Homo sapiens: one gene and its partners. The protein of the gene in region 6 purifies or fractionates together with the protein of the main gene of each other region. This does not show direct contact. Each region holds a gene or a part of one and is shown on either strand. Other genes may lie near its edges. The genes, in order: AASS, TMEM177, ANO6, LRRC8A, ALG10B, ACKR3 and HMGN3.

Region 1 (3,500 bases), on a different chromosome or scaffold from region 6:
TATGATTTTGAACCACATCTTCTGGAAGGATAAAATGTGAGACCAAGTTACTCAATCACAAGTAAGCCAAGAAAATGTCCAGCATCTGCACCTCACTAGTAATACTGGGAATTCATGAAATACATCTATACGTCTGTAGATATATATCTCAGAGATGTCAGGTCTATTGTTCTTCATTGTACAAAATGTAAAATAATTAAAGAAACATGTTGTTATAGGGAACTCATTCATGTTGAAATTCTTATTTTAAGTAATGTGAAGAGAAAATGTTGCTTCATTATTTAGGTTTTAGTATGATTTGTGGAATGCAAGATTCTGTTATTTAAAAAAAAATTTTTAATTAGCCCCTTCCCTTTTTTTTTTTTTTTTTTTTTTTTAAATAGGGAACGTGCTCAGTCACTTTCAATGGGCACCAGGAGAAAGGTTTTGGTTCTTGGATCTGGCTACATATCTGAGCCTGTATTAGAATATTTATCAAGAGATGGCAATATAGAAATAACAGTAGGTAAATAAGCCCTAATTTTTGAAGAAGAAAAATGTATTTTATAGCGTGTTGACTTCTACATTTTAGAAGACTACTTTGTTTCTGAAATTTGAAAATTTATTTTTGGAGATGTTAAAATATATTTTACTCTGACATATCTAAAAATGTGACTTTTAATTACTGAAATAGGATCTGACATGAAGAATCAAATTGAACAGTTAGGCAAGAAATATAATATTAATCCTGTTAGCATGGACATTTGTAAACAAGAAGAGAAGCTGGGCTTCTTGGTGGCAAAACAGGATCTTGTCATCAGGTCAGTATCTGGCAAGAAATGAGTTTCATATTTTTGTTGTTATTTCTTTTCTCATTTTTCTTTCTCTTTCACTTCTCCTCTCTTCATACTCCTTTGGAGTAAAGTTTTTAATTGAAGTATGGGTCCAGAAGGTGCACAAATCATAAGTATATAGCTCAATGAATTTTCACAAAGTGAACACATTCTGTGATGATTATTTATGTCAGGAAACAAGAGTATCAGTAATTCCCCAGAAGCCCTCCTGGTGCCTCTTTCTATTCACTTACCCCATCCTCTAAGGGTAAACACTATCCTGGCTTCTGACATTTAGTTTCTGCCTGCTTTCAGACTTCATATAATTGGAATCATTCAATATATCCTCATTTGTGGCTTCCTTCTTCCATTCAATGTTGTGATTACAAGAGTCATTTGTGCTATTGTCTGAAATGATAATTTATTCATTCTCATTGCTGTATAGTATTTCATTATGTGAATATACCATTATTATTTATTTGACTACTATAGATATTTAGGTTGTTTCTGGATTTTGGCTATTATAAGTCACACTGCTATACACATTTCGGTATTTGTCTTTTAGTGACCATTTCACTAAAACAGTAATTATACATTTCTGTTGGGTATGTACTTAGAAGTGGGATTGCAGGTCATAAGGTATTAATGTTTTATATACTTAAGTGTCTATTTTATCCTTTGGAGTTATAAAGCTTAAATGGAATAAGTAGATTATTTAGCCTTATGACCATTTTAAGTCTCATCATAGCAACAGATCCTGAAATAGAGTATTACTAACAAAAATGCAGATCTAACATCTAGACACAGAATTACATGAGATTCACTTTATAACTAAATTTGGTTTTGATATTTGAGTACATATGTACACAAAGAAAGGAACAACAGACATCAGGGCCTGCTTAAGGGTAAAAGGTGGGAGGAGGGTGAGGATCGAAAAACTACCCATTGGGTACTATGCTTATTACCTAGATAATGAAATAATCTGTACACCATACCCCCATAACATACAATTTACCTGTATAACAAACCTGCACATGTACCCCTGAACCTAAAATAAAAGTAATAAATAAATAAATAAATAAATTTGGTTTTGAAATGTCAAAGTGATGAAAATAGTCATTCATTCCTAGAATTTTCCCAAGATGAGAAGAAGAAAGTTATCTGTTCCCTCATAGTGATTACCTAGTCACTTTCACAGATCAGATTCAAATTGTATCTTTGGAGGAAGTTCTGTGATGTTCTGCTTTAAAAAAAAAAAAGCAGGCTTGGAAAACATATAATGAAAGGTAGTTCTGTAGGCTGGCATTTTTACATTTCTCTTGATATCTTTAAATACAGGCTAACTTTATGCACTTAAAATGTTACTCAATTTATATAAATGTTATGAGCGTTAATTTTTATTTAGAAAAAATTGACTAATGACCAACTGAACCTCTCTGATATTACCATGAAAAGAAATTCTGATTCAAAATAGAATGATCTAGCCTTCTGAGTAGAACAATAATTTATTTTGCCACACAGAGGTATCTAAATATATCATTTTTAATTAAAAGTAAAATAACATGATAAAATCCATTTGGAACAGAATCTGAAATAAAATGTGACAAGATAATGGACAAAGACATCAATCTCTTAATATGTCCAAATTTTAAAATTTAGCAAACTAGTGGCCTTCAATAGGATTTAGCATTAGCAAAAACTGTTTTATATTTAATGTTTTCTCATTTGGTGTATTTTCTATGCTGAATAATGGTAATGCCATTAAACAATGTTATCCTATAACATTCCTTAAATTTTTTTTTTCTTTTTTTTGAGACAGTCTCATTTTGTCACCCAGGCTGGAATGCAGTGGCACAATCTTGGCTCACTGCAACCTTCACCTCCCAGACTCAAGTGATCCTCCCACCTCAACCACCCAAGTAGCTGGGACTACAGGCACTTGCCACTATGCCTAGCTAAAGTTTGTATTTTTAGTAGCAATGGGATATCACCATGTTGCTCAGGCTGGTCTTGAACTCCTCAAGCAATCTACTTGCCTCAGCCTCTCAAAGTGTCAGGATTACAGGCATAAGCCACCATGCCTGGCTAATTGTTTTATTTTTTAAGTTGGGGAAAGAATGTTTTGATATAACCACAGTGATAGGGACTACAAAAAAATGAGTAAAGAATATGTTTCACAAAAAATGTTTAGTAATATGTACAATTCTCATAGTTATAATTTTTCAAATTTAGTTTTTAATTTAATACAAAGTAGTAATTGATTTCAAGTTTCTTTGAAAATTCCACATGTATTTTGTGTGTATTTTTCACAAGTGACATTTTCGACCTTTTGGAGTAATTGGGTTGGAGTCAACTTAAATAATTTAAGAGTATGTCCCATTGAGTGCTTACTGTATCATATTCGAGACGAATTATGAACTCTAATCCCTTCGTCTAAAAAAGTACCACAGGCAAAGTCCTATCATTCTACTTCTCAGCCTATTATAAGGCCAAAGTTTTAAAATATTATTAGATCTTAGTAAAATTTTGATTGAGCAAGTTTAATATGGAGAATGTGATTTAAAAATTTCTGTTTAACCTTTAAGATGATGACATTGCACATTTTCTATTAATATTTGGTTCTAATAGTTTTGCGAGTATTTTGCTCAGTGGTTTCCAAAAGTCTACTAAATTTGTTAGCAGTAATTA
Region 2 (4,113 bases), about 120 Mb from region 6:
TTGCCCTGTAGAATGTCCCACATTCTGGCTTTGGCTGAGGTCACATTGCACTATTTACATACAAACAACTGAGCAGCCAAAATTGGGGGGGGGGGCTCAGAAACAGAACAGACTTTAATAATAATAGCTAATGGCTAGGCGGCACAAACCGTGAGGCACAGGTTACATATACACCAACTCATTTTATCACACAGCTAGTAAGGGGTGGAGCCCGGCTTTAACCCTAGGCAGTCTGTTTTCACCCTCTGTAAAGGATTGGGCATGGCTGTGTTCCAAGAAAACTTTATTTACAAAAGCAGGTGGAGAGCTGGATTTGGTGCACAGATTAGATGATCCCTCATCTACCTCACAGAGCAGCTGGAAAGGAGAAATGACAGATGGCACGCTGCTCTGTGGACTGTACAGTGTGAAGCACCTGGGAGGAGCTTGGGGGGCAGCGAACATGGTAATAAACATAAAGCTCAGAGCTCCCCGCCAAGGGTGAGCGCTTCCAGACGGAGAAGTACACGGGCCGGCCAGTCAGATGGGCATGGGTTCTGATGGGGGCCCTGCCATAGGCCGCCTGGTGACCCACGCGGGGCTGCCGTTCCTTCGGGGGTTCAACGGCATGATCAAAGACACCGGGATGTGTGTGTGTGTGTGTGTGTGTGTGTGTGATGATCAAAGACACCGGGGTGGGTGTGTGTGTGTGTGTGTGTCATGATCAAAGACACCAGGGTATGTGTGTGTGTGTGTGTGTGTGTGGCATGATCAAAGACACCGGGGTGTGTGTGTGTGTGTGTGTGGCATGATCAAAGACACCGGGGTGTGTGTGTGTGTGTGTGTGTGTGACGGAGTCTCGCTCTGTCGCCCAGGTTGGAGTGCAGTGGCGTATTCTCGGCTCACTGCAACCTCTGCCTCCCAGGTTCAAGCGATTCTCCTGCCTCAGCCTCCCCAGCAGCTGGGGACTACAGGCGTGCGCCACCACGCCCAGCTAATTTTTGTATTAATCAAAGACGCATTTCAACGCAGAGGAGGAAGTGCTAGCGGACCCACCCCAAGGTGCACAGTTAGAGAAGGAGCCTCTGCGGCGGCCGGAGCCCCCCACGGACATCCCCTTGAGGCCCCCCCAGCCACACCCCCAAGAGTCCCGCCCCCAGACCCGTCGAGCGAGCTCCCCTCCCTGAAATCCTCGCCCCGAGATCTCCGGCCGGCGAGCTCCGCCCCCTGAAGTCCCCATCCCAAGATCCGGGGCCGGCGAGCTCCGCCTCCCGAAGTCCCCGCCCCCAGATCCCCGGCCGGCGTGCTTTGCGGCCGCCCTGCCGCGCGCACATGTAGGCGTTCCGAGCGGCGGCGGAGGTGAGCGCACGGACGAGCGGGAGGGACCCTTCTCCGGCCTGATGCGACCCGGTAACGCGTTCAGACTGCGGAGTAGCCTAGGGGCCCAGAGTGGAAGCGTAGCGAGGACCCCTCTGCGGGGCTCCTGCAGCCCCTCCTCCCCCAGCCACCGGCGGGCTGCATGGTACTGTGTTCTAGGCCCACCCCGCAGCGCGATGGCCCTAGGGACGTTGGACTTTGGTCCAGACCTTTCCTTTCTTAGCCTCACTTTCCGCATTGGGAAAAAAAAAAAGCCCGAATGATAATGATTCTTATAGGAGTTCTTGATTAAGATAGGCCAAGCGGTACCCTGCGTTTTTGTTTGCGGCAACTCATTCGTTGCTCATTAAGCACTTTTCACGGACAGGAATACAGTAAGTTTCAATCAAAGTGAAATAATTGTGAATTTTTACTGACGTATTCACGGATGAAGTGATAGGATGCCCGGGGATGTTTCAAAATAAACCAGTTGGACGGAAGTGTGGTGGAAAGAGAAATCAAACAAGATTGGCCATGAGTTGATGGGATTGAAGTTGATGGATGTACTATTTTGTCTACTTTGGTATATGCTTGTAATTTGGCATAACAAGTTTTCTAAAACAAAAAGTTTGCTGTGGACACCTGACTATGCCTGTGTTAGCTTGCTAGAGCTGCCATGCCGAAGTACCGGAGACTGGGTGGCCCAACCAGCAGAAATTTGTCCTCTGGGAGTTATGGAGGCTGGAAGTTCAAGACCAGGGTGTTAACAGGGTTGGTGTCTTCTGAGACCTCCCTTCTTGGCTTGTAGGTGGTAGCCTTTTCCCTGGATCCTCACATGATCTTCCTGCTGTGCCTGTTTGCATCCTAATCTCTTCTTATAAGTACACCAGTCAAATTGGATTAGGATCCATACTGATGGCCTCATTTTATCTTAATTATCTCCTTAAAGACCCTGTCTCCAAATACAGCCACAGTCTGAGGTACTGGGGGTTAGGACTTAAATATATGAACTGGGGAGGAGGAGGAGACACAGTGCAGCCCATAACACTGTCACTTCACTAGCTTAGGATTTTGGCCATTTAAGTTTTCACAGCTTTGAAATAGGGTTAGCTGTAGTAATTAGGTCATGGGGTTGTGAGGGTTCAATCGGTAAGAGTGCTCAGAACTGAGTCTAGCATATAGTAAGCACTCAATAAATTGAACACGTTTTTCCTTATAAATTAGTAATCATAGGGCTTTACCATGGGATGAGTGGAATGAGGCAGTTGGAGTGCCGTGCCCAGCGATGGGAATAAAAGTCATTACAGCCATTATTATAAGGAATATCTGCTGCTGTGCCAGACACTAAATGTTTTATGTATGTTTATTCATGTGCTCATCACCGCCACCCTAGAGGTGGGCCATTACGACACACCTGTTTGGCACATGGGGAAATTGACGCACAGAGACGGAGCTGGGATTTGAACACAGGCACTCTGGCTCTAGAGCCCACACTCTTCACCACTATGCTGTGTTACTTTGGTTTAAAAAGGTGGTGTGGACCCTGGAGGATGTTCAGTCTGCAGGCTGACCCAGGGAAACTGGCTGACTTCTCTTTTTCTTGGCCCAGATTGTCCGCAGTGACTACACTCATGGCAGGTCCCCTGTGGCGGACCGCAGCATTTGTGCAGAGACACAGGACAGGCCTCTTGGTGGGTTCCTGTGCAGGCCTGTTTGGAGTTCCAATCTCGTACCACCTCTTCCCGGATCCCGTGGTCCAATGGCTCTACCAGTACTGGCCTCAGGGCCAGCCAGCTCCGCTCCCTCCACAGCTGCAGAGCCTCTTCCAAGAGGTGCTACAGGACATAGGTGTTCCTTCAGGCCATTGCTACAAGCCCTTCACCACCTTCACCTTCCAACCTGTGAGTGCAGGCTTCCCAAGACTCCCTGCTGGGGCTGTGGTGGGCATCCCTGCCAGTTTCTTGGGAGACCTAGTGATCAACACTAACCATCCCGTGGTCATACATGGGCATACAGTGGACTGGCGGAGCCCAGCAGGCGCCCGGCTGAGAGCTTCCCTGACCTTGTCCCGTGAAGCCCAGAAGTTCGCCTTGGCCAGGGAAGTGGTGTACCTGGAAAGCAGTACCACTGCCGTGCACGCCCTGCTGGCCCCAGCTTGCCTGGCAGGGACCTGGGCACTGGGCGTGGGTGCCAAGTACACCCTGGGGCTCCATGCAGGCCCCATGAATTTACGGGCTGCCTTCAGCTTGGTGGCAGCAGTGGCAGGCTTTGTGGCCTACGCCTTCTCCCAGGATTCTCTCACTCATGCCGTGGAGTCCTGGCTGGACCGCCGCACGGCCTCCCTCTCTGCAGCCTATGCCTGTGGTGGAGTGGAGTTCTATGAGAAGCTTCTGTCGGGCAACCTGGCCCTGCGCAGTCTCTTGGGCAAAGACGGGGAGAAGCTGTATACACCCAGCGGGAACATCGTCCCCAGACACTTGTTCCGAATCAAACATTTACCCTACACCACCCGCCGGGACTCTGTGCTGCAGATGTGGAGGGGGATGCTCAATCCGGGCCGCTCCTGATGGGCTCATCACAAGGACACTTCCAGCTTGTGCAGACACCACCCTGCCATTGAGTCTGGAGGGCCCTGTTGGAGCCTTTGGACCTATAGCTCACGGCCAGAAAAATCACTGGCTTTGGAATTAAATAGCTTAGATTGTACTATAACCACTACTTATGAACTCAGGGACTATGAGGGACTATTCAGGGGCTATGAATCTGAGCCTTTGTTTC
Region 3 (3,500 bases), on a different chromosome or scaffold from region 6:
CCTCTTCTCCATCTTAAAGCCAGCAAAGTTTCGTGTTTGTGACTATCTTCTGTAGTCACCTCTCCCGCCTTCTGTCTTCTTCCCCCTGTCCTCCTCCTCTCATCTCCCCCACCACCTCTTCCCTTGTTTAGAAATAAAAAACCTCTACCTTTATAAAAAGTCTTTTATCCCACTATATAGCTGGGAATTTTTTAAAATTTATCACCCTTCTTTACAGGCTCTCGCCTCCTGCCATGTTGCCCTCTTGCCTCCATCACATACAACTTCTCTCTCCTTTCTTCTCCTACTCCTGGCTTTTTTCTCCCCAGTCACCAAGTTTCTGTTCATTCTCTTTATTGAGCAGTTAACTCACTCCGGGTTTCAGTGCCTCCTTCCAGATTTCTTTAACAGGTCTTATTCTCCATCTTCAATGGAAACTGTCAGGGTCTTTCTCTAAACAAAGATCTCTCTCCTTCCTCTTCCCCCACCCAGAAAGGGATTCTGGCTTTAGCTGTGAAATTCTTTTTTTTTTTTTATCCTACTCCGGAGAAAACAACCCTCACTTTCATTGAGCTCATATTCAGATTTTTCCAGATAAGTAAAAGTAGGTCATGCATAAATAGTACTGTGTTTCTAGATGAAAACAAATATATAAAATTGAGGAAAGTCTTAATCCATTCTGAGATTAAAAAGGGTTTTCTGAAAAAAGTAGGTTAATTATTTAACACTATGTTTCGGTAACATTGGTTTTTAGCAGCTATTTCCTAAACTGGAATTGAGAAATTCATATGAAATGAAATTTGTTCACATGAAATATTTTAAAGGATGAATTATACTATCCGTGGTTTATACTTTCACTTCAAGTAAGCTCATTGTTGAAAATTACAGTGATATGAACTTTGCCTTCAAATTTCTCCCCCTATGTTTTCTTGTTTGAAAACTGAGAATGCTGAGTGTTAGCCAAATTAGAGAGTGACTGGTGCTGCTTCTCTTTGTGTAGGTGCCAGTTTTCTTAACTTTTTTATACAAAGTCCTAATTTATCAAAGATATATCAGCCAGGTGCTGTGGTTCACACTGGTAATCCCAGCACTTTGGGAGGCCAAGGTGGTCAGATCACCTGAGGTCGGGAGTTCGAGACCAGCCTGACCAACATGGAGAAACCCCATCTCTACTGAAAATACAAAATTAGCCAGACATTTGGTGCATGCCTGTAATCCCAGCTACTCAGGAGGCTGAGGCAGGAGAATTGCTTGAACCTGGAGGCGGAGGTTGCAGTGAGCCGAGATCGCACCATTGCACTCCAGCCTAGGCAACAAGAGCGAAACTCCATCTCGAAGAAAAAAAAAAGATATATCAGTTATCCTTTCTATCCAAAACTATACCCACCCCCCAAAAATAGATAGAGAAAAGCCTTATAAGTCAGCAGTTGTTTTCACATCGTGTAAGTGTGTCAAGAGAAACATGGAGAAATGTTTCACCACACATGTACCCTCCTCTTCCTTCCTTCCTCTCCCGCCTTTGGGCCCATACCCCTTGACTAGGATTCTTGCAACAAGGAAAGGAGCATATCTGGCTCAGGGATCCAGGTTCCTTTTGGGGCCTCCCCAGTACCTGGCATATGACAGGGACTCAGTATGAAGCAGCTGAGTGAATGAATAAGTGCCTTGTATGCTTCAGATACATCACATCAGTAAATTACAGAGTTGTCAGTGAGACCCGGAGAGCAAGCTCAGAGCCCTTTGGCCTTCCCAGCTCCACCTTAGTGTTTTGATATTTAAGGTATTCCTGGGGATTTTATTCTGTTCTTAATAAAAGGCTAGTATAATTCCTGTGTTAACTCACTCTGGAGAAATTTTTATAACAAAATGTCAGAGATAATAGAATTAAGGATCCAAAATGTCTGTAGTATCAATTGTTTGGTATTTAGTAGATAGCTATAATTTTCCTTTATATACATTTATACATGTATATTGTAACATAAACGCCTCTTCTTATATAAATAAGTATACTTATTTATATAATAAGAAAAAAGAACTGTTTTAGGAGAAAATGTCCCTTCTCAGGATAGGATTTGGAGAGAAGATGAGCTATAGGCAATCAGAGTCCTAAATATAGGTGTCCCTCACTATCCACACTTACTCTCTAGGTTCAGAAACAGTAAACTGACACATAAAATAGATTCAGATAGTGAAGGATGCTTGTATTTCAAAATTAGCAAGTGGGAATACTGTAGAACGTCCTAAACAGAAATGATGATCATCTCCATTATGTGGATTAAATGTGATAATGGAGTTGAAGAGGAAGTGAGATGTAAAGTGCTTCTCACCATGTTTTGTACAAAATAAGGACCTAGTAAAGCATAACTTATGATGTGGCTATGACAATACACATGGTAAATTCCTATGGAAATTATTTTGTAACCCCTGCTTCTAGCCTTGGCCAGGGAAAACGTATCTGGTGTGTATATTTTTCTAAAAGTTCTGTGGGTGATTCTCATGTGAAGTCAAGATTGAGCTCCCTGCACTAGAAACACAGACCAATAGAAAACCCAAACATGAGTGGTTCAACTCAGGAAAACCAAACAAGAGGCTCAGCATCTGTAACTCAGAAATGAAAGCTAGTAAGAAAGACTTCTAAGATGACCTGATATGAGACGGAAGCGCCAGCTGACACAAGTAGTTGCCAGGACAGAAGTTTCATCCTGAATCTGAGCTTTGATGTGATTTAGAGCCCAGACAGAAAAAGACCTGCTTCTCTGAGGGCATGGAAAGGATTCAGCAAGAGGCGGAGGCTAGAAGTTTGGGAGGCAAAGCAAAGTATAAACAAATAGAAACCACACCCAGTGACCTTAGAGTTCGGTGTCATGAAGGGTGATGGACATGTGTGGTCCTTGGTGCTACCTGAGTCACCCCCCCCCCCCCCCCCGGAATGACTGCAAAACTGCAGATTCTGGAGCTTATCTCAGACCTTTTAGTTGGGAGCACAGGAAGCTGCACTACTCACAAGCATTCCATGTCATGCTTGTATGTGCTGAAGTGGGAACCACTGATCCAGGTGGCCTGGATAACTGAGCCAAGAGTCTACGTAATATAGGCCATATTTACACTTGGCCTCAGCCAGTGCAGCCTGTATTGCTCAACAGAAAATCCCATTCAGCAGGTTTTGATGTGTTAGGAAACGTGCTACATCCGTTACCTATTTTGAATCATTTAATCCTGACAGCAGCCCTGGGCAATGTAGGTTTTATCACCCCGTTTTATTTTTTTACCAAAGTTAACCAGCTAAGAAATAGAGTGTGGATTCAGATTCAGGGGTGTCTGAACTCATATCCCATCCACTTTCCACAGCCTCCTGCTGCCTCTCTAACATCATCAAAAAGAAAGAAGTGGGGAAAGATTGTGAGGTCAGAGACGTCTCCTGTAGTAGAGATAATTTCCCCTGAGTAAAGCTTCAGTAGCAGTCAGTGAAAAGTGAGCCCTGAGATCAATAGCAGTGGGAAACCCAGCAGAGTGAGCCGTTT
Region 4 (2,703 bases), on a different chromosome or scaffold from region 6:
ATCTGTTACCCCCTTGATGTGGGCTCTAAGGATGAGACCTGCCTGCCTCGATCCCCACTATCTTCCAGCACCTGGCCCTGGGAAGTATATCGCATTGGCCAGCTGCTCCCACCTCCATCCCAGGGCTCACCAGGAGCCAGGCTGTTGGTTCTGCCCAGCTTAACAACAATTTATGAAAGCAAAACAGCATGCTGAGAAAATCCACCCCCTAGGCCGGGTGCGGTGGCTCACGCCTGTAATCCCAGCACTTTGGGAGGCTGAGGCGGGCGGATCACGAGGTCAGGAGATCGAGACTATCCTGGCTAACACGGTGAAACCCCGTCTCTACTAAAAATACAAAAAAATTAGCCGGGCATGGTGCCGGGCGCCTGTAGTCCCAGCTACTCGGGAGGCTGAGGCAGGAGAATGGCGTGAACCCGGGAGGCGGAGCTTGCAGAGCCGACATCGCGCCACTGCACTCCAGCCTGGGTGACAGAGTGAGACTCCATCTCAAAAAAATAATAATAGCCTCAAAGCCTAAGTGTACTATGCTTAATTTATAAATTAAACTTTATCATAGGTACCTGTGAATAGCAACGAACAGAACATATAGGGTTCTGCACTACCTGCAGTGCCAGGCATCCACGGGGGACCTTGGACCACATTCCCTGAGGATATGGAGCAATTACTGTTAACAGACGACACCCGTATGCAGCTTAATGTGTGGCAGGCTCACTGTGAGCACTGATACTATTAATTTATTTAACCAGCAAACTACCTATAAATATTCTGTCAATACTCTTCCAATTTTACAGATGGGGTAACTGAGGCCCAAAGACGCTGACTTGTCCAGAGGTTCAGCTGGTAAGTGATGGAGCCAGGATTTGAACCCGGTTCAACAGCCCATGCTCTGGTGAACCGTCCACACTGTTAGCGGAGCAAGGAGCAAACAGGGGGCTGCAGTGGGTTCGTGCTGTCTCCTGGCACACAGGAAGAGCCTCACGTATGCCAGCTTCTTCCCTGCCCTGCTGCGAGGAATCAGCTGGGGCCATGAGTTCTTACTGCGTGTAAGTAAGGCCATGAGTTGAGCCTGCCCGTCCCGAGGCTGCCTCCTTCAGATGGGATGGGCAGGAGGGCAGGAGCCAGGAGCCCTGGGCCTTGATCCCAAGTGAGGATGATGGGGAGATGGCACAGCAGCCCTTCTGAGCTTGCTCTATCACCGCCCCCATTTTCCTGCCAAGGAGACTGAGGCCCAGAGAGATGACACGCCACTCGTCTGAGGTTGCAGCCTCTCCGAAAGGGTCAGGAGAGGATGTACGTCTTATTTCCTCCCACTCAGAGCCCATGCTGTATTTCCCTTCTGCCAAATATGGCACTCAGTTACAGGGTAACTCTGGAAGTCCCTCCCTCTCTGGGCCTCAGTTTCCCCATTTGTAAAAGGCACAGGTTGGACTAGAAACTGAGCTTGGACACTCTGTGGCTGAGGACCGTTTTGCAGACTCGGACCTCAACCTCACGGGCACCTGCTCTCTCCAGCCGCGTTTAGAGAAGGGCCCAGGAGTTCCTGGGGAGCAACGTGGCTTTCCCAGCAGGGAGATAAGCATGGCCAAGGCCCGGCAGAGTGCTTTTTCTTTTTTTTTGGGGGGCGGGGGCGGGGGACGGAGTCTCACTCTGTCACCCAGAGAGTGCAGTGGCGCAATCTTGGCTCACTGTAATCTCCACCTCCCAGGTTCAAGTGATTCTCCTGCCTTAGCCTCCCGAGTAGCTGGGATTACAGCCGCATACCACCATGCCCGGCTAATTTTTGTATTGTTTGCAGAGACGGGGTTTCATTATGTCGGCCAGGCTGGTCTTGAACTCCTGACCTCAGGTGATCTGCCCGCCTCGGCCTCCCAAAGTGTTGGGATTACAGGCGTGAGCCACCATGCCCAGCCCAGGCACAGGGGGTGCTTTCAAAAAGGCTCCTAACCTGTGTATCCTACACTGCCACCACTGTGACCAAGGATCAGGAATGCATTTGGGGTTGGCTTTGAGGTCAGCAGGGGCTGAAGGTCAGAGGGTAGACAGGAAGTGGGCTCTGGAGCACCCAGGGGCCAGAGCCTTCCCAGAAAGACCCCACTCCCACCCCGTGATCTCCTCTGCTGACACATGCAGTGGTCAGGGACAGTGGGAAAGCTCTGGACAGCGAGTGGCAGAGCTCGGGTCCATATGGAGCCTGGCTCTGGAGCCCCCTCCCTGAAAGGCCTCCTCCCCAGAACATGCCCTGCTCTGAGCCAGGGAGCCCTCTCCAGGCCCCAGAGAGAAAAGGGGAGGTACTCTCAGTTGCTCGGCTCCCACCACAGCCACACCCATCCTCTGGACCGATCCTTCTCTGCTGGATTGTCGGATTGTCGCCGGCCCGTGCCCTGGAGGCTTGAAGTTGGTTCCCAATCCCCCAATTGCACCCTCTCCTACCTCCCCAGAGACTTCAGTGGGTCCCCATCGGCACTGAAAGGCCTCAACTCGACCTGATCTTTGAAAAGGACAACTCTCTCAGGAGGCTTCCAGGGCCCCAGCGTTGTCCTTGGCTCTCTGGCCTTCCTGACCAACTGCAGGAAAGCCGCTGTCTCTCTCCTCACTCTGCCTCCATGACCCTGTCCACCCTTAACTCTCTGGCCAAAGTCACCAGTTCCTAATCCAGCCAACTCCCCAGGCCCCATGTGCCCCACGCTCTGGCCTCGCCCT
Region 5 (3,448 bases), on a different chromosome or scaffold from region 6:
ACGATGGCGGTTTTGTCGAATAGAAAAGGGGGAAATGTGGGGAAAAGATAGAGAAATCAGATTGTTGCTGTGTCTGTGTAGAAAGAAGTAGACATAGGGGACTCCATTTTGTTCTGTACTAAGAAAAATTCTTCTGCCTTGGGATGCTGTTGATCTATGACCTTACCCCCAACCCGGTGCTCTCTGAAACATGTGCTGTGTCCACTCAGGGTTAAATGGATTAAGGGCGGTGCAAGATGTGCTTTGTTAAACAGATGCTTGAAGGCAGCATGCTCCTTAAGACTCATCACCACTCCCTAATCTCAAGTACCCAAGGACACAAACACTGCGGAAGGCCCCAGGGTCCTCTGCCTAGGAAAACCAGAGACCTGTGTTCACTTGTTTATCTGCTGACCTTCCCTCCACTATTGTCCTATGACCCTGCCAAATCCCCCTCTGCGAGAAACACCCAAGAATGATCAATAAAAAAAAAAAAAAAATAGACACAACACATTATAAAATATTATCAAACATGAATTTATTTAGAAACAAAATAAAAACATGCTATTTGAACAAACTTTTTTATAAAGAATAAGTTGACTGAAAAGCAGTTTTAAATAACATCAACTCACAAATGACTTTTAGAAGCCAAATAAACATTTCTATTTTAGAGAATAGTATGTAATACATAACTTAAAAGCATATAGAACACATATTCCTACATTCTTAAAAATAAGAGATTGTGATTCCACAGAGAATTTTTCAAATATCTAAAGTATGTCCTGTTAAACCAACAATTTGCTTCCAAACAGGAGTCTCTTTTGAGAAGCTAAATATTAATTTTCAAACAACTATTTCTCCATTTGTTAACTGGAATCATTCATATTAAAACAAAGGTCTTTATGTCAATGTATGTTAATATGGCTGAAGGCTCCAGCCCTGAGTTATTTTTTTACTTCCTTAAATTCATAATTACAACATATATCAATTTGAGGTATCATGACAAAAACAGAAACAAAAGACACAATGGTAGATGAGAATCTATCTCCCTGTGGAAGAGGCAAAATTAGTGTGGACCTCATTTTTCTGACCTATAAAACTAGGAAGTATAATCACATTACTTGCGACAATTTTTCCTTCTAAAATGCCATGAATTTGAAGGTAGACTTCATGCCTTTCTCCATCATAACAATAGAGTTAAGAATATTGATTTTGGAGTCAGGCTGCCTGGTTACGAATCCCAGCTCAGACAGTTATTTTGTAATCTTGGAAAAAATACTTCACCTCTCTATACTAAGTTTCCCCATGTGTACGGTACTGATCTCATAGAGTTGTTATGAGACTAACATGGGTAAATCACTTTATAACAGTGGCTGATACAATGTTACACGAGTTTTCAAATGAGATATCATCACTCATTGTTTGTGGGAAAAGATTCTAACTATGTCATATGAATGAAGTATGCCATATGCAAAGATCATATCATATGGGAAGATATATTAGGTTAAATCGTCTAATGATTACAAAACACAAAGTGAGGTTTTTTTTGTTTGTTTTTTTTACATTTATCTTAGCTTCATACAACGCAGAAAACATTTGAATAACATTAGATAAATAGATATAAATGATTATAAATCTTTGTGGTTTAAAACAATAAAACACTATAAAAGAGTTTAATTCAGACTAATAAAAGTTTAACTACAACACTTGGAAATGTAGCACAATATCTCCACCTAGTGGACACCTTAAAAATTTTTACAGATAGTGCTCAGCCTTTTTTTATCACTGGCGGAAAACTTTTCAAATAGAAGTAATTTCACGAATATAGAGGGATAAAAAATAGAAAATAAGTTAAACACTATATTACCAGTGCTCCAAAACATCACCGCTAAAATACATTTTAGTAAGTTGTATAACTCAAATGTTTTTCTAAAACAGGGTGTAATAGAGTCAAATAGTAGTTTTGGTTTAGAAACTTAAAATATACCAAAGACAGCATGTAAGTCATCAGAAATACTTGACCATGACTTAGCAATTAATTTTTAAAAATTAGCTGTAACAAAATTTAGAATTTAAAAATTACAGAGCTTTAAAGATGTCAGATACCTTTAAAAGACATTTGAACTACTTGCTATCTAACTCTTGTGTAGTATCTTTGATAAATAGAAATCTTATCTCCAATGAATGAGAATCTTACTTTTTTTCTGGGCTTGTTTCCCTAAAAAGACTAAACAATTAGAAGTTATGCTTTTCATGATTTGCAATCTAATTGTTGACCTCTGATTTACACTTCAGGCAATACAGAATTAAGTCCAATCTTTCAAATAATTATTCTTCAAGAGAGCTTATCAAGTGATAGAATTTCCACTTATCCAAATTAAATATCCCACATAATTTTAGTCATTTATCTTACAACAAAATTATAAGGAGTTATCATGTTGTTCATGCTCTTTTGAACAGTTTGTAGCATTTTAAAAAATGACTATATCCAGTACAAAAATAACACGTCATGAATGGTTTGGAAACTGCAGAGAGCAAACATGGATTTTCACCTCTCTCTCCATATACTACTTCTTTTGATTTAAAAAAAATTGAAAAAAAACTTTTCATAGTGAGGCAGAATATGACGGTCAAAAACTCACAGGCTTGGGAGTCATACCAATCTATGTTCATTTAGTGACAGTGTGGACTTTGGGCAAATCACCTGACCTGACCGACCTTCAGTTTCTTCAGCAGTCAAAGAGAAATCAACATCTGCCTCATAGAAATATAAATGTAGCATCAAATGAGACAATATTTGTAAATCAGCTAGTATAATGCCTAAAACATTATAGGTGTTCAATGAATGATGGCAACCATCATTATTATTGTTACTTTTTCTCCTTTTTTCATCTTATATATGCCATACACACACATATATGGTTCAACTAAACTGAATTAAGTTTCACTGTGAAAAACCAATACATTTAATATTTTTCTTGTTGGAAGCTGGCACAGTGGCTCATTGTAAATCCTAGCACTTTGGGAGGCCAAGGTGGGAGGATCACTTGAGGCAGGTGTTTTGAGACCAGCCCACACAACATAGTGACACCCTGTCTCAATTCTTACAAAAAAAAAAAAGGAGAAATTATATGTATACACACACACATACATTACATATATACAAATTTGTATATATAAATACGTATATATTTGTATATATAAATATATATATATGTATTTTCTTTTCCTTGTTAGAAAAATACTGTATTGTCTTTTGGTCTGATGGTGATAGGCTGAGATAAAATTTAATTAACATTAAATTCATCAAAAATTTATCTCTTAAAAAAGCACAATATAGAGATATTATATTGTGACAGAATTTCTTACCCTAGAAATAATTTTTCAAATCTCAAATATTAAATATTAGTGTTGACTCATGGATATATGTTAAAAATATGTCCTCAATCTCTATTTTTATTATAATTTT
Region 6 (4,191 bases):
GCTGGCAGTTTTCCTTTCCAGCGTCTCTGGGGAGCCTGGAGATGTCCTTGGTGCCGATGTGACACGAAGAGTGATTGCGCCGCCCTGCAGAGGCGGTGGCGGGACGCTGCGCTCGGGCTGGGAAAGGCCGGCCCCAGGGCGACCCCTCCGGAGGCCCCCGGAGAGCAGGTGTGCACCTCGCCTCCCGCTGGGCAGCCAGTTCAGGAGAAAAATGTGAAGCTTTTAGCTAAACAAAATATTTCTTTCGTTAAGGGCTTTCTCCACACGGAGACTTTCTAGCCACGTGAGACTTTGACCTCCCAGTCCCCCAGATTCAGCGCTGGGACCGAGCGTCTGCTGTTATTTTTAGTAGAAGTATAAAAAGAATCTCGAAAAGTTTTAGCTCTGGAGAAGGCGTGAATACAGCTGGTGCCTTCATACACTCCACTTGAGCCGCTCTTTAAGAACTCCAGGAGATCAGAAAGCAATACGAAAGCCAGAGCATTGCACATGGGATGGGCTGGCGGGTGGCCTTTGGGTCCCTATCTTATGGACGATTTTTGTAAATGGGGCATTGGAGATGAGTATCACCTGGATCACATTTTTAGGTTGAATTCCTCCGTGGGGGGAACTTTAGCAATACGCATCCAAATAAGAATGTAGATTGCAATAATTGTAGTAAAGTGTTTGCCAGACTCATCTCAGAAAAAGACATTATCAAAAGGCATTTATTATCTTCCTAATGCGTGTCTGGCACTGGGCAGACACTGTAGAATACTATCTTGATTAGAGTCTCAAGGATTTTGTACTTAAAGTCCTTTACAAATAAAAGTATTCAAGTATAATCTATTATAAAGACTCTTTTCTCCACTTTGGGGATATACGGTGTGGCATCGATTCATTGGTCATACCAAAACTGTTACTTCTGTTTTGGAGGAATTAACAAGGAAAACCCAGGCTTAGTAAATCAACATCGAAGTTCAGAAGTTCAGAGTAATTTGTCTTGGGAACAAAGTCCTCCCTAGAGCGAAGAGGCATTCACAGGAGCTCTTGGTGTTAATGGGATTATTCAAGATATACCTGAGACCAGATAAATATTTGATGATTTTGCCAAGCACTAGGGTTTCTTTGCAGTTTGTCTTTGGCTGACGTTTTCCCCCCGTGGGGTTTGGACTTTGTGGCTTCACCAGATTTTGCAAATGAAAGAAGGCTGGGGTTTCCCAAGAGTACACTTGTGCAGGAAACAACAGACTAGTGAGGTTTACAAGAGGGGGGTGTGTGTGTGTGTGTGTCTGCCTGTGGGATGGGGGTGGCACGGGGGAGAGAGAGATGTGGGTTACAAAGCTGCCATCTAGAGGCTAGAGGCTCCTTTCTGCAGTGTATATAATGCAAGTCTGCAGCCAGCAGAGCTCACAGTTGTTGCAAAGTGCTCAGCACTAAGGGAGCCAGCGCACAGCACAGCCAGGAAGGCGAGCGAGCCCAGCCAGCCCAGCCAGCCCAGCCAGCCCGGAGGTAAGGAAACGGTGCTCGGGCAGCAGCTCTGCTCGGAAAGAAGGCACGGCTTCTGCTCTTAAGCCAAGTGGTCTTTTCAAAGGCCTTCTTTAAAATCGCTCAGATGGGTGCTTTTGAGTCTGCGGGTCTGGTTTCTGAAAACCCAGGCTGCACGCAGCTGCATTGCAAAGTGCTTTTGCTAATTCGGAGGGCTTCACCTTTCTCTTCAGAAAGCAAAGGGCAGTTTTCTTAAGTCACTTGCAGAAGGAAATTTCCATGTGTATTTAGGAATCTGGTGTTTATTTGCTGTGTGGCTATTTAAGCTCCAGTAAGCAGGGGAACTTTGCAAGAACACAGACTATCCATTCTGCCTGACCAATTTGGCATGGGGATTAGCTTGGCACCCACTGTTTACCTGTTTTGCTTCTAGTATATCAGTTTGGAAACAGATAAAATTGGCAGTAAATACGTAATTCCAGAATGATGAACACTTTATTAAGAGGCATCCTTAAATGGAGCAGAAAACTGCTGAGAATCTTTGTGAGTCCAAGATGTATTTGAATTCAGTACTTTGGGGGATTTACCAGAGTCTGTAAGTCCGGAAGCTATAAACGTGAATGTTAAACACAGCCCGGTCTTCTCTTCTCTTGATGGCACGCTTGCTAATCTAATTTGAGTATTGTTCTCTTAGAAGGTGTTAAGTCCAACTTCAATTGGGGTTGGGGGAAGCACACACACAAATCTACTATTTTGCAATTTAAATATACTCTTCAGGTAAAATGTGGATTTTGTTCAATTTTGTTGGCATGTGCAAAGATTCAAGGAGTGACTGAGAGAACTTTGGAGTGAGGTCAGGGATGGGTGGTTAGCCAAGACTTGTAACTTCCAGGGAGAATGAGAAGTTGTAAAAGTCAGACTGGCTGTCTCTCTTTCTCTCTTCCTCTTTCTTTCTTTCTTTCTTTCCTTTTGCTCACAACAGGATTACTTAGTGTTTCAAAAGTGGGAGAGAGCCTCCTTAAATGGTTTACAGCCCTTTGAATGTATTTGGTGCAGTGACATCCCCTGAAACTTCAGTCTGCAAAGTCTCAACATGGTAACTTTGTTCTTTTCTTTTTTAAAGGCAGATGCTGCTTTTAGTGTCCCTTTATTTATTCCAGGAAAAATGTGGACATCAGCTAGGCACGCCTAGCAAAGAAAGTGGAGGCTGCTGGTTTCTGTGCTTTAACTTTCCATAGATTTTAAATGGATAAACTGCTTGCCCTTCTTTCATCAGAATATGAGCTTTCCCCAGATGGAAAGTCTTTTCTAAAGCAAAGTTGCACATGGGAGCTCTAGCTTGGAAACAATTTGCTCTTTTTTCCCCAGTCTCTGCCATAAACACTTGAATGTGCACACAACTGCAGAGCTTAATGCCACAACCTCCAGGAGATTGGGGGGAGGGGAAAGCTGCCCAGGATGGGGGTGGGAAAGCGAAGGAAGATGGAGAAATGGCTGCAGTTTGCTGCCCATCAGCTTTTCTCTTTTAAGGGGCAGACATTGCAGACGTAGTTTTAAAAAAGTTCCATAAAGCATCGCCAAGGCAGCATGCCTGTGCGACACACGCAGGGCTTTGGGGGTGTGTTTTCCCCGTATTAACAGCAAGTCGTTGAAGCGTTGAGAAGGTATTATGATTTCTAATCAGGCCCAGAACAGGCCAAGTATAGGCTTTCTGAATGAAAAAAAAAAAAAAAAAAAAAAAACCCAAAACAAAAAACCCTGCTTAATCAGGAACAGTGGCTTTTTGTGTGATCATTTTAGGGCGAGAGCTCCTGTTTTCAAGTCGACGTGAGGGAAATTGGTTGAAGTCACTCAAACCTGAGGCTGAAGGGCAGTCACTTTATAAACCTTAAGAGTAACCGAGGGGAAAGAAAAAGACCTCAAAGATTGCAAAACTTTAGATTTTTTTTTTGTGATTTTGTAGAACATGAGGGGAATCTGGGGCCAGAAGGCATTTGTACCTTTAAACCAGGCAATCAAATAACTTAGTTTTATTATTAGAAGCAAGAATAGTATTAAAACGCCTTCAATTGGATTGCACGTGTGTAGGCATAATTCAGGAAGAAACTAAAGATCGTGTCATGTCAAGTGTTACTAAAGTTCAGGAAGGAAAAGACAAAGCTCCAGGACACGTATTTTCTGTTGAAATAAAAGAAAGCAAGCCAGAAATAGACAGATCAGGACAGGGAGGCGTGCAGGCGGTGGCCCTGATTTTGAATATTTGATGGTTTCCTTCAGGGAATGTTTGATGCTTTTATCGACTAATTTGGAATTGAAAAAAACAAAACAAAACACTATTGCTTCAATATTAAAGTGATCAGGGAATTGCATAATTTTATGGTGACAATTTTAAAGAGCCACAGGTAGTTTTGGAAGCAGACTGTGTTTTGTTCCAGGCACTGAAAAAGTGGATGGGGGCCGAGACTATCTCAGGTGGCCTTGAACCACTGTTGGCAAAGGGACAGATAACGAGCCCAGGGCAGTGTGGGGGACTTTGCGTTTTGAAGTCTGGGTCAGCCAGATAGTAAGCATCTTTTGCTTTTCCTGCTATAACAGATATGTGGCCATCCTCCCTCAGTTGTATATGCAGAGCCTAAGTTTGCACAGTGTCCTCCTGGGAACCCCATTGTGTCTGGCTTAGGGCGGGGGTGAGGAGGCTCTCCTAGCCTGGCTGACCTCCCACTG
Region 7 (2,938 bases), on a different chromosome or scaffold from region 6:
TGATAGTTTTTTTTTTTTTTCAGTATTTGTGTAATTTAAATTATCTTTGCAGAAACCTGCTCCACCAAAACCTGAACCCAAACCAAGAAAAACATCTGCTAAGGTAAGAAGTGCTGTTTCCCACTTTTGGCTTTTTAAACAATGAATAAATTATAATTCCCTACCTCAGAATCATTCAAAGAAAGGCCGTATTTAATGATCCAAACTGAAACCATTACCACTGTTACGGGCTTGCTTAAAGGCATAAAGCACAGTTTTCTGCGTTAATAGGAGTGTGTTTTCCATTTGGTCAGTGAGGCACGGGAAGTCAGAGATGTTGCTCTGAGAAGCCTCATGTCCGAAGGGGGTTTGGCAGCAGCCTCGTGAACATGCGGTTCATGCGGCACACAGCGGGGATGAGTTTGGGCCCTGGCAGCACTGCCCCACTATGGGAGGAATTTGGGAAGGGGCTTCTGACTTCATCTAACTGGATTTCGCAGGCCAGTCTGAGGTCTAATAATAATAATATAATAATGCCAGCAGGTAATATTGGCATTTATAAGGCCCTTATAGTATGGCAGATAAGGTTGATTGCTTTACTCATATGACCTTCACATCAACTCTGTTGAAGTAGATACAAATATCCTGTTTTGCAGATGAGGAAACTGAGGTACAGAATTCTTAGGGAACTTACCCAAAATGGCTTTTCTGCACTCTGCCCTTTGGTATTGTCCCATGTGAATTGTTTAAAACTTATGTGTATAGTGGCATGAGTAGGTGATTTCAGAAACAGAACTCACTTTTGTTGTTTGGTCTTAAAATTAGGAACTTTTCTTCATCTGGGCTTCATTTCCCTGCACCTTCCCAGCTTTCTAGTCATGCAAGCCACATGTCTCCACGTGAGGGGTTCATTGGAAAGCAGCCACAGAGCCACCCCCTGGCTGGGTTCTTCCCCAGCTCTGCTTCCTCCTTCCCCAAGTCCTGCAGCTGCTCTCTCCATGGCAGAACCACTTCTCCCCTTACTGGAGGGGAGGTCCACTGAACAAATCCAGGAGAGGAATCATTGTGTTTTCCACAGAAGAGAAAGTACACTGGACTTTCTGTGCAACCTGTTACTACATTTTCACAGAGACTCATATTTGTGCAGTGTAACTCAGTTGAAACCCAGCAAAATTAGGCTCCCGTGTCTCCATAAAGGCCACCATGATGGTAACGGTTGTACTTCACCTTGTGTTTGGACAGAGGCTGATTGATTTTAGCCATCATCACACCGTGTCTAACATTCTCTTTCACTGTGCTTTGATCCTCTGTTAGAAAGAACCTGGAGCAAAGATTAGCAGAGGTGCTAAAGGGAAGAAGGAGGAAAAGCAGGAAGCTGGAAAGGAAGGTACTGCACCATCTGAAAATGGTGAAACTAAAGCTGAAGAGGTACTTTCCATAAATACCTCCCACTGATTGAATCAGTGTCTTTAAAGAAATTTCTCAATCCTTCAGCCGGTGATAGCACGTTCTTAATGTCTCTTTTTATTGCCTGTAATGTTATTGCAGATCCACATCTCTCGCTCAACTGTTAATGTCTCAACCTCCAGAGGCACCCCACCCAGCACACTGTCAGTAAAGGGGCAGATTGAAACAGTGAGAGTTAAGGGTACAGTAGAAAATTCTGCATGTTTGCAGTGACTAGAATCAGATAGTAGTGTGGTGGTTTTTTTTTTTAATCATTATGAAGAGTGGGAGCTTGCAGGTAAGGCTTCTGTGGTGGTTTGAAAAGCAGAAAGCAATAAATGAAACAAAGTGTTTGTGTAATATATTCCTGCCTTGTCTTCTTCACTCAGAGTTGAAATAGGTTTTGCAGTAAAGCTGGAAAAAAAAAAGAAAACAAATGTTCAAAACTGTGTGTGTTGGTGGGTGGAATTTCCTTTGCTTATAGTAGTTTCAGTAGTAACTATATGTTTTTTTTTCCTTTCTTTTTCACAGGCACAGAAAACTGAATCTGTAGATAACGAGGGAGAATGAATTGTCATGAAAAATTGGGGTTGATTTTATGTATCTCTTGGGACAACTTTTAAAAGCTATTTTTACCAAGTATTTTGTAAATGCTAATTTTTTAGGACTCTACTAGTTGGCATACGAAAATATATAAGGATGGACATTTTATCGTCTCATAGTCATGCTTTTTGGAAATTTACATCATCCTCAAGTAAAATAAATATCAGTTAAATATTGGAAGCTGTGTGTAAGATTGATTCAGCATTCCATGCACTTGCTTTAAAATTTAGTCCTGTGCATACTGTGGTGTTTTTACTGTGCATATTTGAATTTTTCATGCAGTTTTTCTAGAGCAATAATCAGTGGTGCTTTTGTACCTAGGTTTTATGTGATTTTAATGAAACATGGATAGTTGTGGCCACCTGCTGACTATTTGTGGTTTAAAATAAAAGGTTTACTTGTCTGCAGAATACCTGACTCTTAGTATCTTTACTGCATTTTGGGAGTGTTTCATTTTATTGTTGCAGAAGATATAAAGAATTTTGATAGACCTTGCCATAGCGGTATCTCCAATAAGTCAAATAAGATTGTTTCTTAATTTTCTGGCCTTTAACATTGTTACTATTTTAATAAAATCATCTATGAATGCTAATGTAGAAGAATTACATCTAATTCACTTTATACCAGAAGTGGCCAGCAATGATTACTGTATAATAAAACTTTATAAAGCACTAATTTTTAAAAATCCTTATAAATAGGATATAGTGCTGCTAAATCAAAGCTAGTAAAAAAAAAAAAAAAAAAAAAAAAAAAAAAAAAACATAAACTAAGGCTCAACTTTGAAAATCTCCCACTTTTGAAATGATAAATACTAAGTCACATTTGTACAAAATCCTTCGCATTCAGTTGAGAACTTCACAGCTTTGAAAGTGCTTTACCCAACATGAGCATGTTTCAGCCTTGCATCAGT

The links.
Region 1: the proteins of ACKR3 (region 6) and AASS purify together in Homo sapiens (co-immunoprecipitation; one large-scale study listed by IntAct). This does not show direct contact.
Region 2: the proteins of ACKR3 (region 6) and TMEM177 purify together in Homo sapiens (co-immunoprecipitation; one large-scale study listed by IntAct). This does not show direct contact.
Region 3: the proteins of ACKR3 (region 6) and ANO6 purify together in Homo sapiens (co-immunoprecipitation; one large-scale study listed by IntAct). This does not show direct contact.
Region 4: the proteins of ACKR3 (region 6) and LRRC8A purify together in Homo sapiens (co-immunoprecipitation; one large-scale study listed by IntAct). This does not show direct contact.
Region 5: the proteins of ACKR3 (region 6) and ALG10B purify together in Homo sapiens (co-immunoprecipitation; one large-scale study listed by IntAct). This does not show direct contact.
Region 7: the proteins of ACKR3 (region 6) and HMGN3 purify together in Homo sapiens (co-immunoprecipitation; one large-scale study listed by IntAct). This does not show direct contact.

The regions. Positions count from the first base shown.
Region 1 is NC_000007.14:122,095,750-122,099,249, reverse strand, and holds part of AASS (alpha-aminoadipic semialdehyde synthase, mitochondrial), read left to right. Parts: intron 1-383; coding exon 384-505; intron 506-673; coding exon 674-800; intron 801-3,500. UniProt on the Homo sapiens protein: Bifunctional enzyme that catalyzes the first two steps in lysine degradation.
Region 2 is NC_000002.12:119,677,888-119,682,000, forward strand, and holds the start of TMEM177 (transmembrane protein 177), read left to right. Parts: upstream 1-1,313; 5' UTR 1,314-1,389; exon of another isoform or gene 1,390-1,730; intron 1,731-2,944; 5' UTR 2,945-2,966; coding exon 2,967-3,902; 3' UTR 3,903-4,113. UniProt on the Homo sapiens protein: Plays a role in the early steps of cytochrome c oxidase subunit II (MT-CO2/COX2) maturation and is required for the stabilization of COX20 and the newly synthesized MT-CO2/COX2 protein.
Region 3 is NC_000012.12:45,404,595-45,408,094, forward strand, and holds part of ANO6 (anoctamin-6), read left to right. Parts: intron 1-3,500. UniProt on the Homo sapiens protein: Small-conductance calcium-activated nonselective cation (SCAN) channel which acts as a regulator of phospholipid scrambling in platelets and osteoblasts.
Region 4 is NC_000009.12:128,913,133-128,915,835, reverse strand, and holds part of LRRC8A (volume-regulated anion channel subunit LRRC8A), read right to left. Parts: exon of another isoform or gene 445-2,703; intron 1-444. UniProt on the Homo sapiens protein: Essential component of the volume-regulated anion channel (VRAC, also named VSOAC channel), an anion channel required to maintain a constant cell volume in response to extracellular or intracellular osmotic changes.
Region 5 is NC_000012.12:38,326,774-38,330,221, reverse strand, and holds the end of ALG10B (dol-P-Glc:Glc(2)Man(9)GlcNAc(2)-PP-Dol alpha-1,2-glucosyltransferase), read right to left. Parts: 3' UTR 501-3,448; downstream 1-500. UniProt on the Homo sapiens protein: Dol-P-Glc:Glc(2)Man(9)GlcNAc(2)-PP-Dol alpha-1,2-glucosyltransferase that operates in the biosynthetic pathway of dolichol-linked oligosaccharides, the glycan precursors employed in protein asparagine (N)-glycosylation.
Region 6 is NC_000002.12:236,568,434-236,572,624, forward strand, and holds the start of ACKR3 (atypical chemokine receptor 3), read left to right. Parts: upstream 1-1,391; 5' UTR 1,392-1,491; intron 1,492-4,191. UniProt on the Homo sapiens protein: Atypical chemokine receptor that controls chemokine levels and localization via high-affinity chemokine binding that is uncoupled from classic ligand-driven signal transduction cascades, resulting instead in chemokine sequestration, degradation, or transcytosis.
Region 7 is NC_000006.12:79,200,745-79,203,682, reverse strand, and holds the end of HMGN3 (high mobility group nucleosome-binding domain-containing protein 3), read left to right. Parts: intron 1-52; coding exon 53-103; intron 104-1,293; coding exon 1,294-1,407; coding exon of another isoform or gene 1,408-1,434; exon of another isoform or gene 1,435-1,527; coding exon 1,528-1,620; coding exon of another isoform or gene 1,621-1,659; exon of another isoform or gene 1,660-1,956; coding exon 1,957-1,995; 3' UTR 1,996-2,438; downstream 2,439-2,938. UniProt on the Homo sapiens protein: Binds to nucleosomes, regulating chromatin structure and consequently, chromatin-dependent processes such as transcription, DNA replication and DNA repair.